Linked DNA regions of Homo sapiens. The protein of the gene in region 2 purifies or fractionates together with the protein of the main gene of each other region. This does not show direct contact. Each region holds a gene or a part of one and is shown on either strand. Other genes may lie near its edges.

Region 1 (3,500 bases), on a different chromosome or scaffold from region 2:
GATGCTTTAGTAAAACTCATGGTCCCTGGATATAATTTTCATTTTCAAGTTTGATTCTTGTTTTTTTCTTCATCTTGAGCTCTAAAATGGTTAGTGCCTGTAAAAGAACCAACTACCTGGTCGCATTTCTTAAATGAAGTTTTAAAGTATGTATAAAAAAAAATTGAAGAAACGAAAAAGGCAGAATTTAAGAAATGTTGGTACTTAATATTTTGTAAGAACTCATGTTAAACATTTAAAATGATACACTGTGTCCTCATTATTAATTATCTCATGGTTTTATAGTAGAATGTTAATGGGGAGCTAAAAATTTTTAATTTTATGACTGAACTCAGTGAAATTAAACTATTTTTCATTTCATATCACTTGGTATAATTTGCTTGGCAGTCTCATTTCTTCAGCTGAGATTCAAATGAAAGTTTCAGTCTATGGAAAGTTTTACCATGAAAACTAAAACTGTAGATTCATCTCATTCTTTGAATCTTGATACAAAGGGAGAAACTATTTACATACAGAACAATGTGCAAAATAGAATTTAAAAGACAAAGATAAATAGGAAAGCACTTGGTAACTGGAGAGACAGGCGATGTTTGAAAGTTAGAAGCAATTTTGATTTATTATCAGATGACTGAGCCCTAATTATTTTAATAGTCCTTATAATCTCTCTTTTTCACCTTCACTTCAGTCAATTCCATATAAACCTTAACCGCTTTTAAGCTTCTTCATGTCCCTATCAAAGAAAAAGAACAACCATTTAGGAAAAGTTAACTTTTCTCTAGTATTGTTTAGTAATTCTTTTTAAATTCCTAAATTATCTTCTGAAATAGTTTTTGAAATAGGCATATTTTTAGGACAATATGTCTACAAGTCATCATTCTTAATAATTAAGGTAAGATAGATTAGTTCAGAAAAAATAGGACATTTTTTGGACTAAACGAGTTACTTTAAAGTACTATGTCATTATGGCCAGGGGCTGATGTTTATATTCAGATAAAGTCATAAATTGCTCAGAAGAAAATACAACACTGTATATCTACTTGAATACCAACAATTCATACATAGGTCAAAACCGTATTTTCTTTTTCATCACATTTAAGGAGTACAAGGAGTACAAATAGTAATCCATTTCGGTGTATACATTAATGCAAAGAAGACATAACCCCCAAACTCAAGGCATTTAAAACATTTTCTTGCTTTATGCCAAAGAAACTTTTTCAAAGCACTACCTTGAATTGCTTTTCCAGTCGTGTCTTTCCTCCTACTCCTGGTATAAGGATGCTGTTAACATAGCTGTGCAGCTGATTTGAAGATACTTCAGTCTCCTTTCCAAGAATGGCTTCCAACAAGGCATCATGGATGAAAATGTACTGCTCCTAAGAGGTACAATACATGGTAGTCACTGAGGGAGTGTTAAGGGTTAGCCACTCATTCATGAAGTGTACCTTAGTTTAATTCTGCTGCTAACAGGGACCTCCCAGTGATTTCCTTCAAGCACTTACAGCTAGGTGATTTGCTCCAATACTCACTTTATCAGTCTTAACTTATTTTACGGTAGAGACTGTGTTAAGTTTAGCTCTGTATTCTATACTGTGCCTGGATCACGGTATTCTATACTGTGCTTATTGCTTCAACTCAATAAGCAAACAAAAAATCGTGTTCAATGAAGGGTTTTAGAACCATCCTCTCCTATGTATTTCTCAGGCCAGACAACATGTTTAACTCCCCCTACCATCTAACACAGCTCTTGAAACAACTGTATCTCTTTCGTAAGTACTTGTGTAGTTATTTAGGAATCCAAATGTTAAGATCCATACAGAAATGGAAAACTGTGATCCGTAGAATAGGATCATTGTCAGAATATCTTCTAATACAAACCTGTAAATTACTGCAAGCCCTAAAAGAATGAATCTGTCTCTTCATTATCATTTAACAAATTTCAGTTACAGCATTTGCCAGAATGTCGTGAGGACGCTGGCAGCTACTCCTTACCTCAGTCTGGACGAGGTAGTTACGCTGTGTCCTGATATGCTTCAGGAATCCCAGGACGTTAACTGTGCTTTTGTCTTTTATCTGTTGCAGCATGCTGTCTATTACAATATAGGTGCCTGTTCTGCCCACACCAGCACTGTAAGAAATGAAGACACTCAACTGGCACTTTTGTTTTATCATACTGTTAACTTTGGATTCGAAAAATTCCAATCTAAACCCCATTTATTTTATTATTTTTCTGAGATGAGATGGAGTTTCACTCTGTTGCCCAGGCTGGAGTGCAGTGGCGCAATCTCGGTTCACTGCAACCTCCGCCTCCCAGTTCAAGCAATTCTCGAGCCTCAGCCTACCGAGTAGCTGGGATTACAGATGTGTACCACTACACCCGACTAATTTTTTATCTTTAGTAGAGGTTTCACCGTGTTGGCCAGACTGGTATCGAACTCCTGACCTCAGGTGATCTGCCCACTTTGGCCTCCCAAACTGCTGGAATTACATGTGTGAGCCACCACTCCCAGCCTAAACCCCACTTAGATAACCTTAGATGACGTACGTTATTCACTTAGCATTGCAACATAAATCACAGAACAAGCGACATGTATTTGAGTACCAAAGTTTAAAACAAACAAAAAAGAGGCAAGAATGCATTTTCAAATGAAACAGAATAAAAGCATTTTTAAACAACCAACTAAAGTCATTTACTGTGGCTGACAAAAAACAAGCTTTATACAAGGATTTCCCAGTGCTTTTGAAAAGGTATTTTATATGGAACATTTAAACTAAAAATTTAAAAATGAAATATTTTCATATATACTATAAATATTGTTATTTAGAAGAACCTTTCAGAAAAGCCATTTACAAAAACACAATCTCTATTCTAGTGTGGAAAGTTCTTGTGTTTAACGTCATATTTTTATTTATTAGGATCAGGCTACAATTTTCCTATAAACAATGGGGATTTTGTAATTTTTTCTTTTTTTTTTTGAGTCATGATCTTGCTCTATCATCACCCAGGCTGGAGTGCAGTTATGTGAACACAGCCCACTGCAGCCTTGACCTACTGGGTTCAAGGGATCCTTCTGTCTCAGCCTCCCATGTAGCTGGGACCACAGGCATGTGCCACCATGCTGGCTAATTTTTTTATTTTTAATTTTTGTAGAAATGGGGTGTCACTTTGTTGCCCAGGCTGGTCTCAAACTCCTGGGCTCAAGTGATCCACCCACCTCAGCCTCCCAAAGTGCTGGGATTACAGGAGTTGGCCTCCATGCCTGGCTGATATTATTAATAAGAAGATTTTATAAAAACTAGGGATTGATCTAGTTTTTTAAAAATCACAGAAGCAGCAGATGATTTCTTAATGTTACAGGAATAGAGCCTCTTTAAGACTATCATAGGTCTTATCCATCCCAGTTTCCAGTGGAAGATTCAGCTTCTAAGTGAAAGCAGTAGCAATCATTGTGGTCCAAGGTCACTGAGGCCTAAGTCCCCTGCCCCATCTATTTCACATGTTG
Region 2 (4,025 bases):
TTCAGGATGGTGATGGGGCCTGGCCAGTCCAAGGAGGCTCCTGGGTGGTCACTGAGTGGGAGGTCATCTTCACTGTTTCCTCTCCTCCATGGTAGGAAATCACTGACCAGGACATGTTTGGAGATGCCAGCACGAGTCTGGTTGTGCCGGAGAAAGTCAAAACTCCCATGAAGTCCAGTAAAACGGATCTCCAGGGCTCTGCCTCCCCCAGGTACTGCAGATGGAAAGGAAGCAGGGGGTACAGCCTGCAGCTGTGCTTAGCATGGGCTTCAGGGCTGAGGGAAAGCGGGGCTGGCAGCAGCTTTGGGGTTGGAGGGGCTATTTCACCAGCCTTTTTCCACCTCCCTGGCAGCAAAGTGGAGGGGGTGCACACACCCCGGCAGAAGAGGAGCACGCCCCTGAAGGAGCGGCAGCTCTCCAAGCCCCTAAGTGAGAGGACCAACAGTTCCGACAGCGAGCGCTCCCCAGATCTGGGCCACAGCACGCAGGTACTTCTGGGTGCCCCCAAAACACCAGGACCCTCTGAGATTCCCTGAACTTCAGGCTCTGTTTTGTTGGCTTCCTTGGACAGTTAGTTGGAGAGAAGAGGAATACTTGGAAATGCTCTGAACAAAAACTCTTGAAGAAAGACTAAATTAGAGAGGTCTCCTATATTCCTTGCTTACTGCCAGTGTGGAACTGGCTTCCACGCTGACCTCTAGGGCGCAGGCAGGGGAGCCAAAAACGCTGTGTGGTCGTGGCCTGCCACGGCTGCGAGTGTCGATTCCACACCACCGGTGTCTCTGCCTCCATCAGACGTCAGTCTGGAGATTGTGCCGTGAATCCACTGTTGCAGAGGACAGCAGCCTCTGGATCTCATGGGACATCCTGACCCGAGCTCCCAACCTGAGTATTGCTGTGGGCGGTCATCGTGCTTTCAAGCCGGGAAGCCAACAATATTAAACTGTTTCAATGGAAGGACCCGAGAGTGGGCTGGAGAAGAAGTCAGAAGAACTGGGCCTCAGGAATCGTGTTCTCCTTTTGAAGGCCTGTGGTGTCAGAGATCTGGGACAGGGATTTTCCCGGCACACCTTACACAGTTCCAGTTCTGCTAGGGTTAAACAGCCAGCCTGTTCATTCCCCTGATAACTTACCAAGTGCATTGTCAGTGTGGCCTCCTGAGCTCCATGCTATTACATGGCTGAAAATGAACTTGAGACTAGAATAGCCCAGTGCCTGGGGTGAGGTATTGTCCTTCTTGTTAATCACTGTTCCTGAAATACCTTTTGTTCCCTCAGACAGCAGGTACCCACACAGCACTCATTGCCACTCTCATTATTTCTCTCCCCACTGCCCTCGTTTCTGTTTCTCTGAGCACCTGCTGGCCGCCCTCTGCCTCTCCCTTCCTGGTTCTTACGCTGCTGCCCCTCCTGCCACCCACACCGTTTCCCATCCGCGAGGCTTGCTGCACCTCCATCCTCTCCACCTGCCCTGGCAGGACAACCGCTGTGGCTTTGTTCCTCATCTCCATGTGTCCTCTAAGGACTCGCTTTGCTGCTTCTTTCTCCTCCTTTCCATCGTGGTCTGGCCAGTGGGAGACTGAGTCTCCCTCCCAAAGTCCTGATATCTGTTCTCTCTAACACCCCTGCTCCAGAGACTCCCCATGCACCAGTCCAGCAGCCCTGTCCTCAGGCTCCCCAGGGACTCCCTAACAAGAGACACTTTCTTTTGTTCCTGCAGATTCCAAGAAAGGTGGTGTATGACCAGCTCAATCAGATCCTGGTGTCAGATGCAGCCCTCCCAGAAAATGTCATTCTGGTGAACACCACTGACTGGCAGGGCCAGGTAAGTGCTGAAACTGCGAGGCCATGTGGGGTCCTGGAGGGCAGGCAATGCCCGGTTGCATTGTCAGTGTGGCCTCCATACTATTGCGTGGGGAGGTGGGGAACTCACCCCTCCATCAGCCCCCACCTGCTCTGAACTGAGCCCAGAACTCTGAGTTCTAGTCCAACTTCTGTCATTATCCAACTTGTGGGATCTTAAATCACTAAGTTTGCTCTACCTCAGCTTCCTCATACGTTAAAAAACAAACAAACAAAAAGCAACAGTAATTCCTCCAGGGCGCCACATGCGTCAGGCAGCATAGTGGAACGGAGGCCTGTAGAGAAGCACCCGGCTGTAACCTCCAGGGCTGCCCCATGAAGGCAGGTCAGCAAGGCAGAGCATCCCTGCCTGCTCCCTCACCGCTGTCCACCTGGCTTAGACACTGGTGCCGGGGACACCTGGAGTGTCCTAGCATGTGAAACCCCCTAAGGCTTCCCATCTCTCACACTCTGCGTGTCTCGTGGGTCGGCCCCACCCCCTCCTTACTGGCAGTCCGGAGACCTGGCTGCCTTTGCCCAGCTTCGGTCTGAACTGCAGAGGACAGGGGCCCTGCAGCTCGGTCTGGGTCTCACTTGCCTCTTGGCCCTTGTGAAGGAGTGATGTGTTCTCACCTGTGTCCCTGCTCTCCTCCCTCCCTATCCCAGTATGTGGCTGAGCTGCTCCAGGACCAGCGGAAGCCTGTGGTGTGCACCTGCTCCACCGTGGAGGTCCAGGCCGTGCTGTCCGCCCTGCTCACCCGGATCCAGCGCTAGTAAGGGCTCTGGCCTCCCTTCTCCTGCCCTTAGAGATTCCCTCTGACCTCATCTTCCAACCCTGACTTCTAAGCAATGATAGACCCTCCTGGCCTCATCAGACCAAGAATTTGCAGAGGGGCGTATGTTTAGGGGGGTGGCGGCAGCAGGCTGTAGGGCTTGAGGCCCCGGCAGACCCCAGAGGATCGGGGGTGGAAATATCAATTCCTGTGCTCCCTGCCTCCCTGCCTGGACCCCCGCCATGCCTTGACTTGCTTTATCCTCTTAAACCCATGATGAAGGAGAGGACACACTGGTTTTAAAAAGATCTTTTATTCCTTCCATCTGCAACATGCTGCTAGACACTCAGGAGTCAGTGCTTCCCCTACCCTCAGGGCCTTCTTAAAAGGCCCAAGTCCCTTGCCCTTGTGAAAGAGAACTATGGATTCCAGGCCTGGGGGCACACACCCTGCGGGCATCCCAGGCACACTGCCGAGTCCTACGTTAGCCTCAGCTGTTCCGTCTGCTTCATGGGCAATGCCCTCTGACCCTGGATTTTTCTCTTGGTTGTGAAAGCACTGTGGCTTATTCCCTGTATGATCCTCTCTGTTTTATTTTGTGGATTGGTTTGCTTTTCCCCTGTGGGTTGTTGAGATCACAGAAAGTCAGCTCTGGGCCTCCCCCGGGCAGGATCCTGGCACCCCTGAGCACTGCTATGACGCTCCCCTTCCTCCCCAGCTGCAACTGCAACTCTTCCATGCCGAGGCCAGTGAAGGTGGCTGCTGTGGGAGGCCAGAGCTACCTGAGCTCCATCCTCAGGTTCTTTGTCAAGTCCCTGGCCAACAAGACCTCCGACTGGCTTGGCTACATGCGCTTCCTCATCATCCCCCTCGGTAAAGACGGGAGGCACCAGGAGGGCGTCGGGCATGAGGGTTCCATAGACAGATGCCTCATCTGGAACAGGACGGTGGGGTTGGGGCCTAGGAAGGGACAGTCAAGGAGACCAAGGCCGTGGCCAGGGACAGCTGCTCCCACACTGTCTCATCTCCTGACGAATTCACCACCTCTGGTTTTCCATCTACCAGGTTCTCACCCTGTGGCCAAATACTTGGGGTCAGTCGACAGTAAATACAGTAGTTCCTTCCTGGATTCTGGTTGGAGAGATCTGTTCAGTCGCTCGGAGCCACCAGTGTCAGGTAATGGCCCCGTGTAAGGAGCTTACTCCCACCCCCGGGGTCCACAGGTGCCAGCCTGGCTGCAGAAGGAGGCTGAGGTCATGCTGCTTTCCTCCCTGCAGCTCTCACCTTCCCGGTCACTCTGTCCATTCATTTTTCCATAAGTGTTTATTAAGCGGAGGCTCACTGTGCACAGCCCCTCCACTCTGCCAGTTTTCATCCTCTGCTATTTGCTCTGCTCCTGTTCATCTGGAAG

The links.
Region 1: the proteins of PACS1 (region 2) and PTPRG purify together in Homo sapiens (affinity purification with mass spectrometry; one large-scale study listed by BioGRID and IntAct). This does not show direct contact.

The regions. Positions count from the first base shown.
Region 1 is NC_000003.12:62,271,571-62,275,070, reverse strand, and holds part of PTPRG (receptor-type tyrosine-protein phosphatase gamma isoform 1 precursor), read right to left. Parts: intron 2,126-3,500; coding exon 1,990-2,125; intron 1,374-1,989; coding exon 1,227-1,373; intron 1-1,226.
Region 2 is NC_000011.10:66,230,453-66,234,477, forward strand, and holds part of PACS1 (phosphofurin acidic cluster sorting protein 1), read left to right. Parts: intron 1-95; coding exon 96-211; intron 212-352; coding exon 353-488; intron 489-1,719; coding exon 1,720-1,824; intron 1,825-2,507; coding exon 2,508-2,614; intron 2,615-3,332; coding exon 3,333-3,487; intron 3,488-3,679; coding exon 3,680-3,790; intron 3,791-4,025. UniProt on the Homo sapiens protein: Coat protein that is involved in the localization of trans-Golgi network (TGN) membrane proteins that contain acidic cluster sorting motifs.